2 separate regions of the Homo sapiens genome follow, and region 2 is linked to region 1. A link means that fine-mapping ties the variant in region 1 to the expression of a gene that starts in the linked region. Tissue or cell type: whole blood. Region 1 holds a variant in brackets; the other region holds the start of a gene. All regions are shown on one strand. Distances are between the middles of the regions.

The links. PIP is the estimated chance that this variant, and not a neighbour inherited with it, causes the effect.
Region 2: SV2A starts here. The variant in region 1 is fine-mapped to the expression of SV2A in whole blood (TOPMed, PIP above 0.99).

Annotation. Positions count from the first base shown.
Region 1 is chr1:149,840,801-149,845,800 of GRCh38, reverse strand. It overlaps H3C14 (H3 clustered histone 14), which reads left to right and starts at 4,593. Exons shown (of 1, transcript NM_021059.3): 1 at 4,593-5,000. The coding sequence starts at 4,644. It overlaps H2AC18 (H2A clustered histone 18), which reads left to right and starts at 3,051. Exons shown (of 1, transcript NM_003516.3): 1 at 3,051-3,583. The coding sequence starts at 3,103. The coding sequence ends at 3,495. It also overlaps the pseudogene H2BC19P and a transcript of H4C15 not described here. RefSeq lists enhancers at 1-476, 4,752-5,000. The variant T/C (reference allele first, on the strand shown) is at 2,045.
Region 2 is chr1:149,914,796-149,919,995 of GRCh38, reverse strand. SV2A (synaptic vesicle glycoprotein 2A) reads left to right here and starts at 2,152. Exons shown (of 13, transcript NM_014849.5): 1 at 2,152-2,257. RefSeq lists a silencer at 2,239-2,308.

The sequences.
Region 1 (5,000 bases):
ATTTAAAATATCTCGGCTACTACTCTGCATCTCCACTGCTACCATCGGCCTCTCCAGTCACATTCTCCAAGAGCACTCTATCTCATTTAAAAGACAAAATCTCTGCAGTGGCCTGTGATGCTCCTTAATGGCCTACATAATCCAGCCCTCAAGCACCTCCGTGATCTCTGTAAAACTTTCCCTTGGTCACTGTGCTTCAGCCACATTAACCAGCTTGCATATTTCTCACATTCACCAAGCTTGTTCCTGCCTTGGGGCCTTTGTACTTACCATGTTCTGTTCTGAGAATACTCTGCCTCAAGATATCCTACAACTATCTTACTGTATTCAGCTCTCTGCTCAAGTATTAACTGATGAAACCTGTCATCCCTACTCCACTCCATGTTCTGCTTTACTTAACAGCAATTGCACATATGGCCCCCTGAATAATATACATTTAGTCACTTATTTTTACTTATCTGCTAATTAAAATGTAGACTTTTTCTATTCTGTTTACTGCTGTATTCCCAGCATGTTTTATCCGAATGTGCAGTGGTTTCTTTTCTTCTCCCTTATCGTGGGAAGTGATGTGCACAAATACACATAATGGAGCCTGAATGTCATATTGCTTTCATACCTGTGTGAATTTTGGTAAGAAAGGAAAAGTAGCGATTGACAGGTAATATAATTACATTAAGTCACTCTCATAGTTAGCTGTTTATTGCTTTCCTGCTCTTATTCTCAGTCCCCAGGACCAAATGTTGACCACTACCTTCCCCCACATATAATTAGGTTATTTACCGAACGCCATGCAGGTGGCTGTTAAAAGGAAGATATATACTTACCTTATAAACTCAACTTTTCCCTGTTGTCTTTCTGTCTCACCCCTACCTCCATGCTTTAAATTAACTTTTCAGGCTTAGGCCTTATCTCTCAGTAGAGCCATATAAGGTATGTGTAAAAGCAGGAAAATGTTTCCTGGGGATGAAGCTTTGAAAAGCTTTTTTTTTTTTTTCTTTTGGCAATAAAATAAGGTAGATTCAGCACAATACCTAATAACTAAAAAATCTGTTTTTAATTGGGTGGGGCAGACAGCAAGTGTGTCATCCTGGAAGATACTATTTGGGATTTTATGTAGGTACATAAGAGAAAAAAGTGAACAAAAGCAAGGGGCTACCAGGACGCCGCAGTATGCTTAACATGTATTTTCTAAGTTTGTATTATGCCTTTATCTTGGTACTTTTATCTTCTGTTCTCACTTGATCTTTTTGAAATGTATTTTAAATCCTAATAAAAATATATAAAGTCTGGAATTAATAAAGGATTAAATGAAACTTTTGTATATCTCACTGAAATTCTCAGAAAAAAGGGGGGTGTGGGGAGGGGGAATTGCCTGGGGTAGTGAGTGAAAATTGTGACCAGGTTCTTACTAAGGAATATGGCAACTGCATAATCAAATGTCAGTGGTTACCAAACTTATGAATCACCTGGTGTTGTGTCATAGATTGTCTATCCTTGCCTCTCGCCCCCAGTGATTTAGATCAGTGGAACTATGTGGGGTTTAAGAAATATACAATATATATTTGTATATATTTGTGTGTCTCGAAAGCTTCAGGGTTAAATAAGTTTTAACTGTTTAGGAAACACTATTGTTTTAGGTATCCAGTCTCAAAGACGAAGGCCTTTAAAACTTACTTAATTTTTCATTACATTTCTTGCCCAGAAAATTGTAAAATACCCAACGATAACAATGGGGAATTGTCTATCAGCACTTGACTAAAAAGCTTTACTATCCATGACAGCAGCCTTTGCATTACTCAATTCTGATGGCATTTAACGTCTTGAAACCCAGAAATAAATACCTATAGACTCACAGTACCTGAAAGGAATACCAAATTGAGACAAGAGAGCTATATAAACCAAAAATTGCTTCAACCACAGAATGGAGGTCTACAGGTGCGGAAGGAAAGTTTATATGGTGAGGCTTGGTCGCAAAACTATTAGGAATATTTTCAGGTTACTACACAATTTTGCGAGCTCAATATGCAGTTAACACTTTTTCCCT[T/C]GACTCTCCTGAGCAGATTTACATTGACCGCACCCGTAGCATATCGTCTCACTTTGGAAAAGGCAAATTATGTGCACATGACCCTGTCACTACAAGGTAGTTCTCGACCAAGCTACATCTTATAGCTTTATCTTATATTCCTCTCCCATCATCTGCAGGAAAAGGGATAGGTGCTGAGGGAAAACCCCTAAGTAGAACTCACAGTAAGCAGTGGGAAAACAGCTTATTTCACTAACGGGGTTAAGTGGCCCTGAAAAGAGCCTTTGGAGACAAAGCAGCCGGCGACCCGCGGAGGGAGGGAGGGAGGGAGCGAGCGAGCGCCAGGTCCCGGCAGGGACTCACTTGGAGCTGGCGTACTTGGTGACCGCCTTGGTGCCCTCGGACACGGCGTGCTTGGCCAGCTCGCCGGGCAGCAGCAGGCGCACGGCCGTCTGGATCTCCGGGACGTGATGGTGGAGCGCTTGTTGTAGTGCGCCAGGCGGGACGCCTCTCCCGCGATGCGCTCGAAGATGTCGTTGAGGAAGGAGTTCATGATGCCCATGGCCTTGCACCAGATGCCGGTGTCGGGGTGGACCCGCTTCAGCACCTTGTACACGTAGATGGAGTAGCTCTCCTTGCGGCTGCGCTTGCGCTTCTTGCCGTCTTTCTTCTGGGCTTTGGTGACGGCTTTCTTGGAGCCCTTCTTGGGAGCCGGCGCGAACTTTGCAGGCTCAGGCATGGCCAGACCCAAGACCGACACCGACCCCCGAGAACGCAAGCAGAGCGGTAGGCTCGGGGTCTACCGGAAACGACTGTGTACTTACAGAGGCTGTGCGCATGACGCTGCGTTATGGTTCGCGAGTTTTCCGCGGCGCGCAATGCGAGGGAGACGAGATTATGTAAATGAGTGGATTCTGGCTGAGCTATCCTATTGGCTATCGGGACAAAATTTGCTTGAGCCAATCAAAGTGCTCCGTGGACAATCGCCGTTCTGTCTATAAAAAGGTGAAGCAGCGGCGTTTTCGGCGACTTTCCCGATCGCCAGGCAGGAGTTTCTCTCGGTGACTACTATCGCTGTCATGTCTGGTCGTGGCAAGCAAGGAGGCAAGGCCCGCGCCAAGGCCAAGTCGCGCTCGTCCCGCGCTGGCCTTCAGTTCCCGGTAGGGCGAGTGCATCGCTTGCTGCGCAAAGGCAACTACGCGGAGCGAGTGGGGGCCGGCGCGCCCGTCTACATGGCTGCGGTCCTCGAGTATCTGACCGCCGAGATCCTGGAGCTGGCGGGCAACGCGGCTCGGGACAACAAGAAGACGCGCATCATCCCTCGTCACCTCCAGCTGGCCATCCGCAACGACGAGGAACTGAACAAGCTGCTGGGCAAAGTCACCATCGCCCAGGGCGGCGTCTTGCCTAACATCCAGGCCGTACTGCTCCCTAAGAAGACGGAGAGTCACCACAAGGCAAAGGGCAAGTGAGGCTGACGTCCGGCCCAAGTGGGCCCAGCCCGGCCCGCGTCTCGAAGGGGCACCTGTGAACTCAAAAGGCTCTTTTCAGAGCCACCCACGTTTTCAAATAAAAGAGTTGTTAATGCTGGCCACTCTCAGTCCAGCGTTCCTCAGTAGTGAATAGCGAACCTGGAGCTGACGGGACGGGACGGGACGGGACGGGACGGGACGGGGCGGGGCGGGGCGGGGTGTGTGTGTGTGCGCGCCGTCTTCCATCTGGAGCACGTAACTGCCTTGGCTCTTCGATGAGTGGGTCCCCAGTCCTAGGACTTCCCAGGGCAGGTGCAGGCACCAAACGTCCTGGGCGCCGCCACGGTCCGCTCCACACAGTCACAAACACCAGCGCCGCGGGCAGTACCCAACGCGCTGAAGTGTTGCGCGCGGAGCGCGCGCTTCCCTAGTGGTTTCCGCAGGCTATGGCCGGACACTTAGACCTAGTCTGGCACCAGCGGGACGTGCTCCTCGTCCCCACCCCCGATGGGGAGGGCCCTGAGCGGGTAGTGCTCGCTAGTGTGGCGGAGCTGGGTCTTGGCTTCACTGAGCTGACTTAAGTCTTAGTTTCTGTTTTGTTTTCCAAAGCGCCCTGGCGGCGGAGAGTAAGGGCCTCGGAGGCGGAATCTTGCGTCCTGGGGGCGGGCACCTCTCCCACCCAAAAGGCACCCGACAGGCGAAAAACGATCCGCCAAGTAGCAACTGGGGGCGGGGGGCAAATGGAAGAATGAGGTTCCACGCGGGAGCTGTAGGGCGCAGCAAGAAAGGGGGGGTATTGCGGGCAGTGTGTTCTAAGGAAGCGAAGGGCGGAAAGGGAACAATCTGACAAAGCTGCAATGGAAAATGACTTTCACCCTGAAGGAAAGGGGAAAAACAAGCTTGCGAAACTTCGCCAACTGGTAAGTAGAAAGTGAGGCGGGGTGGGCGGGATTAGGGAGGAATCTGCCCAAGCCAACCGGTGACTTTAGGACGGGTGACGTCACAGCCAATGGACAGCCAGCGCGGGATTTTCAATTATTGTTCCGCCCAATCGGGAAAAGACTGTGCTTATAAAGACGGCTGCGGCGGGGCTAGGAGCTCGTTTTTCTCCCCGCCGCTGCGCTGGTAAGCCTGTGTTTTGGTTCGCTATGGCCCGTACTAAGCAGACTGCTCGCAAGTCGACCGGCGGCAAGGCCCCGAGGAAGCAGCTGGCCACCAAGGCGGCCCGCAAGAGCGCGCCGGCCACGGGCGGGGTGAAGAAGCCGCACCGCTACCGGCCCGGCACCGTAGCCCTGCGGGAGATCCGGCGCTACCAGAAGTCCACGGAGCTGCTGATCCGCAAGCTGCCCTTCCAGCGGCTGGTACGCGAGATCGCGCAGGACTTTAAGACGGACCTGCGCTTCCAGAGCTCGGCCGTGATGGCGCTGCAGGAGGCCAGCGAGGCCTACCTGGTGGGGCTGTTCGAAGACACGAACCTGTGCGCCATCCACGCCAAGCGCGTGACC
Region 2 (5,200 bases), 74 kb before region 1:
GCTGAGGCGGGCGGATCACAAGGTCAGGAGATCGAGACCATCCTGGCTAACACAGTGAAACCCCGTCTCTCCTAAAAATACAAAAAATTAGCCGGGTGTGGTGGCGGGCACCTGTAGTCCCAGCTACTCGGGAGGCTGAGGCAGGAGAATGGCATGAACCCGGGAGGCGGAGCTTGCAGTGAGCCGAGATTGTGCCACTGCACTCCAGCCTGGGCGACGGAGCAAGACTCTGTCTCAAAAAAAAAAAAAAAAGTTAACTGGGTGTGGTGGCTCGTGCCTGTAGTCCCAGCTACTGGGAAGGCTGAGGCAGGAGAATCACTTGAACACCGGAGGTGGAGGTTACAGTGAGCTGAGATTGCGCCACTGCACTCCAGCCTGGGCGACAGAGTGAGACTCTGTCTCAAAAAAAAAAAAAAAAAGAAAAAGAATGTGTGTTAACCTGAAGACGGGTCAGCAATGAAAGTCTAGTAAAGGGAGAGTCCCTGAGGCCAGTCCAAGCACCATCCTGGAAAGCCGTCACATTCAGAGTAGTCCAGGAGTGCTGGCAAGGCTGCCAATAGCAAAGAGGTGGGGGTAGAAGATTGTTGCCAAGAAGAGTTTTCTGGACCCATTGGCATGGCTGCTTATTGCAGATGGCCAGATGCCATTAAAGATACAAATCCTCCAGTAATGTCATTGTGCATTTATACATTGACATTATGATTCTGATTTGGCTTCAGGGAGAGAATGTACTAGACATGTAGATATGAGTTTTCAGTCTGAGTGACAGTTAAATATTTATGATAAATTAATATTTATGTATTATGGCTTTATATTTCAGAAGATTGTGAACTTTGTTGGCATGAATGATTATTTCCAAGATCCAGCTTTGGAGTCTGCAAAGCCCAGGCCCGTGTCCCTGTCAGAGGTAAATTCAACCTGGCAAATGTTACCTGTGTGGTCTCTTCGGACATAGCCTGTCAGCCTTCTCCATGTATATATATCAGCATTCTGAAGCCTCCACATTTAGTAAGGCAGAATCACACGCTATTAGATCTGAGAGGGACCTGATGCAGTATCTAGTCCAAGCCCCCCTTTTCCAGATGAGAAACCTGAAGTTCACAGATGTGGAGAACTTGACCAAGAGTTGACAGCTTGTTAGCAGTGAGAACCCAGGTCCAAGCCCAGGTCAGTGCTGTCTGGAAGGTCCTGACCTTATCTGGCATAGACACATTCAGGATGTATTTCCCCAAATCACCATATTCCCTCTCACTCCTTCGGCAGGGATGGTCATCAAGTGTCACCAAGTGGCATGTCTTGGATCTCTGAGTCCAGGTTATTGATGCAAGAGCAAAGGAAAGATGAAGGGAAAAGCTGAAACAATTTACTTCTTCCTGCCCGGGAAGTACAAGTGTGTGGAGGGGAGGGGAGGGAGGTAGAGGAGAGTAAGAGAAAATGGAGAAGGGTATTGAGAGGATCCTTTTTGAGTCATTGGAGCAAATTAATGGAAGGGGAACTGTCCGGTTGGTCAGGTCTGTAAAAATCCCTCAACTTCCCCAGTACTTCTGCTACCACCAACTGAATGGACAGGATGAGGAGGTGTCCACTGTAAATAAGTAACCTGGACTGTTTTGTGAGGAAAGAGATGGAAGGAATCCAGGGGTCTCTGACTCTGGCAGTTCAGGATAGAAACCACACCTTGTTATCTCTGCTTTCTCTAAAATGTCCAGGTAAACTTGGAATAGGAGCACTCTGGATTTGGGAGACTGTTGTGAAAAAGGAGTTTGAGAGCAGTGGAGAAGGCAAGGGAGGTGTTTTGAAGGCAGCAAAAGCCCCTGAAATTATTGGGTCCTGCCATACTGAGACTGGGGTGCTAAGGAAGGGGCTGCCACATTCCCCATCTCCCTGTCTTCCCACTTGTCTTCCTAACATCACTGTTTTTTTCTTTAGTTCCTTCTATCTTTTACTAGGAAGGGCCTGGGAAGGGCTGGGTGCCATTTCCAGCTGTTCTTGTGACAACCTCCGGCCCTTTCATCATTTCTCCCCGTGCCCTGACTCCCTCCCCATCCTCTTTTCTCCTCTCCCCACCAATGGTCTCTCCCGATGCTCAGTGGCGCGGGGTAGGGGGGGGCGGAGGCGGGGCTGGAGTGGTGGAAGGGGGGTGGCAGGTCTGCATTGCCGCTTCCCTGGTGCCGGGAGCAGTCGCCGCTGCCGCCTCCGCCCGCGGCCGGGACCCCCGTCCTCGCCCGGGACTCCTTACCCGGGGAACCTAGACCAGGTGAGACCCCTTTCTCAGTCGCTCACCTCCTCCCCGCCCCTGGCAGAAGCATCTTTGCCTTGCCTTGCAGCCATTTTATCCTCCGATGCTTTGCTTATGGGGAGGGTGACGATCCCCTCTCTAGGGGTGAGGGGGGTTGGTGGGTTGGTGGTGGTTTGGGGATGGACATTTATTTCAGTTGTGCTCTTCAGGACACACACACACACACGCATATGTATAATATTGGTGAATGGGGAGGAGGGGTGTTTTTCTCTACCTTAACCAAGTCCCCACTATCCCCTTCGGAGATTAACGTGGTGGTGGGGTTGTGAGGTGGGATGAGGTTCCCTCAAACTCCTATCCCCTCCTCACCTTGACGTCCCCCCACCCCCAGGATGAATGATAAATGACCTTGGCTGGGGCTGGAGAATGGATGCTGCCTCAGTGTGCACGCCTGGACTTGGGTGGGTGGGGGGCAGGGGAAGAAGGGCAGGTGAAGGATGGAGGGAAGGGGAGTGAAGAATGGAAATACTGGGGAGACAGAGATGTAGAGCCGCCAGGTGTTGGGGGCATGGATGGCGGGGGCTGGCGGCAGTTGCTCCGGGGTGGGGGGAAGGGATGTTGAGTGAAGGTGGACACTTGTCTAGCAGCAGGACCAAGGGTGGAGGAGGTGCTCAGAGCAGGGATTTAGTCAGTTCTGGGGGCTTTTCCCTTATTCCGGAGCTGAGGCAAGATGGGGTGTGGGGGGGTCGCTGCAAATGCTGATAGGGGCGGTCTCTATGTCTGTGCATGCGGAGGTCTCTCCCTGCGTCCCCCTCTCTGCCTCTCCGTATTCCTCAGTGTGCATTCTCAGCTGACACCCTCATTTTTATCCCTCAGAACTGTGGGTGCTCCTATCTTCCTAACCTTGGTAGGATGTGGGGAGGGGAGGCGCAGTCTTGATGGTCCTGGGTGGGGGCTGAAGTTCGATGACCGGGCTGTCATGGGGAAGGGGTGCTCCCGCACCTCCCACATTCTACCCCCGCCCCCGCGGACGTTTTGATAAGTGATTGCTTTTTAATGACCTTGTCACCTGAGCTAGGAAGGCCTGGGGATCTGGGTGGACCCCAAAGTCAGGGGCTTTGACTGGGAGGGTGGGGGGTTCTGGACCCAGGGCTGGATGAGCTGTTCTGAAAGAAAGCATTTGCTCTGGAGTCCCCTGCCTGTCTCCACCCTCTGCAGAAAATCTCCTGGGCACATTTTTTCCTGTCAGGTGAAGTCAGCCAGCCTAGGACCTTGTAACCCTGAACCTTGTCTCCTTTAACCTCCACCTCTCCAAGTCTTGTCTCACTCCCCCAGGCTTAGCCACCCTGTGCTGTTTTGGGGGCTAAAAATAGCACCACTTCCTCACCAGCTCAAAGAATTTGTCTTCTTTCTTTCTCTCCTGACCTCCTGGGCTTGCTGGCCCTGAGGAAGCTGGCTGTTGAGACCTCATATCCTGCTGTGGTTGTGGAAGGCTTCCCTGCCCTACGTGCCCCTCTCAGGGGGAAATAGGGTCAACAAACATAGAGTATGGCTCCTGGTGGGTCCTGCCTCCTTCAGGGCTGGAGGGGAGATCCTGGTTAGGAAAGAGAGGAAAGCTAGCAAATTGCCATGCGCTGAGGGGATTCCGCAGTTCCAGCTCTTTCATGGGGGATGGTTGGGCCCTGAACCATGAAGAAAAGGTGACATAGGGGTCACTGCTTCTGGTCACCGTGGTCCACTGCTTACATCTGTCCTGAGGGGATAAGGCGCTGCTTGCCAGTGCTTCTCTCTGAACCACATAGCATTGCTTACCGTCTTCTACCAGGGCGTGTGTGTGTGTGTGCGTGTGTGTGTGTGTGTGTGTGTTTTAATGAAGGCCCTGGATGGGTGGGAGCACCGGAGGCAGGATATTTTTAGGGGGATGATTTCTGATCAGAATCTAGGCCTGCTTCCTCTGCTCCTATGAAGGAAGGGGGCTATCCCATGCCTTCCTCTGGAGAATGTCTTTTTTGGGGGGACACCCAAACCCCCTTTATTCTACATCCGCCTCCTACGCAATGCGGTGTTTGTGGACTCCTTCTTCCTTGACTCCTGGAGGAGGAGCAGAAAGGATTAAGGGGGATTAGGAAGGGAGGCCCTGGAGGGATGGGATGCAACTGTAGGCCTTAGAACCTCATGTTGGAAATGTATGCATTTGACAGTCATTTCCATTCTCACCCCCATCTGTGGAAAGGGGGCCTATCTATGACATTCTGAAGCAAGGTGGCAGTGGACAGTCATCACCTCTTTCTTAGCTTTCCATCTTTCCTCCACTTTACTTGGGTTCCAGGTCCCCCTTTTCTGGATCTTCCCTTGTTCTTCTGGAGGTAGTTAATGTGGGCCCAGCTACTGGAATTAGTTGAAACATAGATAGGGGTGTCTTGGGACTCTGTTTGCAAGGATGCTGGGCAACAGCATCTAAGTATGACCCCCCTGTTGTCCCTTGCTGCTTCCTGTTTCTTTCCCACTTTCAACATCATAGGAAGGAAGAAAACTAACATAGAGTATCTACTGTGAGATTACATTCTCACATCAACTCCAAGAAACAGTCTCCCAATTTAATTATCCCCAGTTAAAATAGATGGACACTGAGGCTTAGGGAGGTTAACTACCCTGACTGAGATCAGTTAGTAAGTGGCAGAGTTGGGATTTCAACTTAGGTCACCCCTAACAGTCATGTGCTTTGCCCTGAACCAGGATTCTCCTTGCCAGTGTCCCTTCCTGCTGCTCACCCTAAAGAGCATCCAAGATAGCTTTCATCTGGGGACCTTATGAGGTAGTATAGGGCATTTCACTATATTACTGTCACCACAAAATTAATAATTAATATTTATTCATCATTTTTATGTGCCAGGTGACTTATGGTAAGGAGCATAGATACATTATATCATTCGACCCTTACTTTCCCCTTTTTAAACAAGA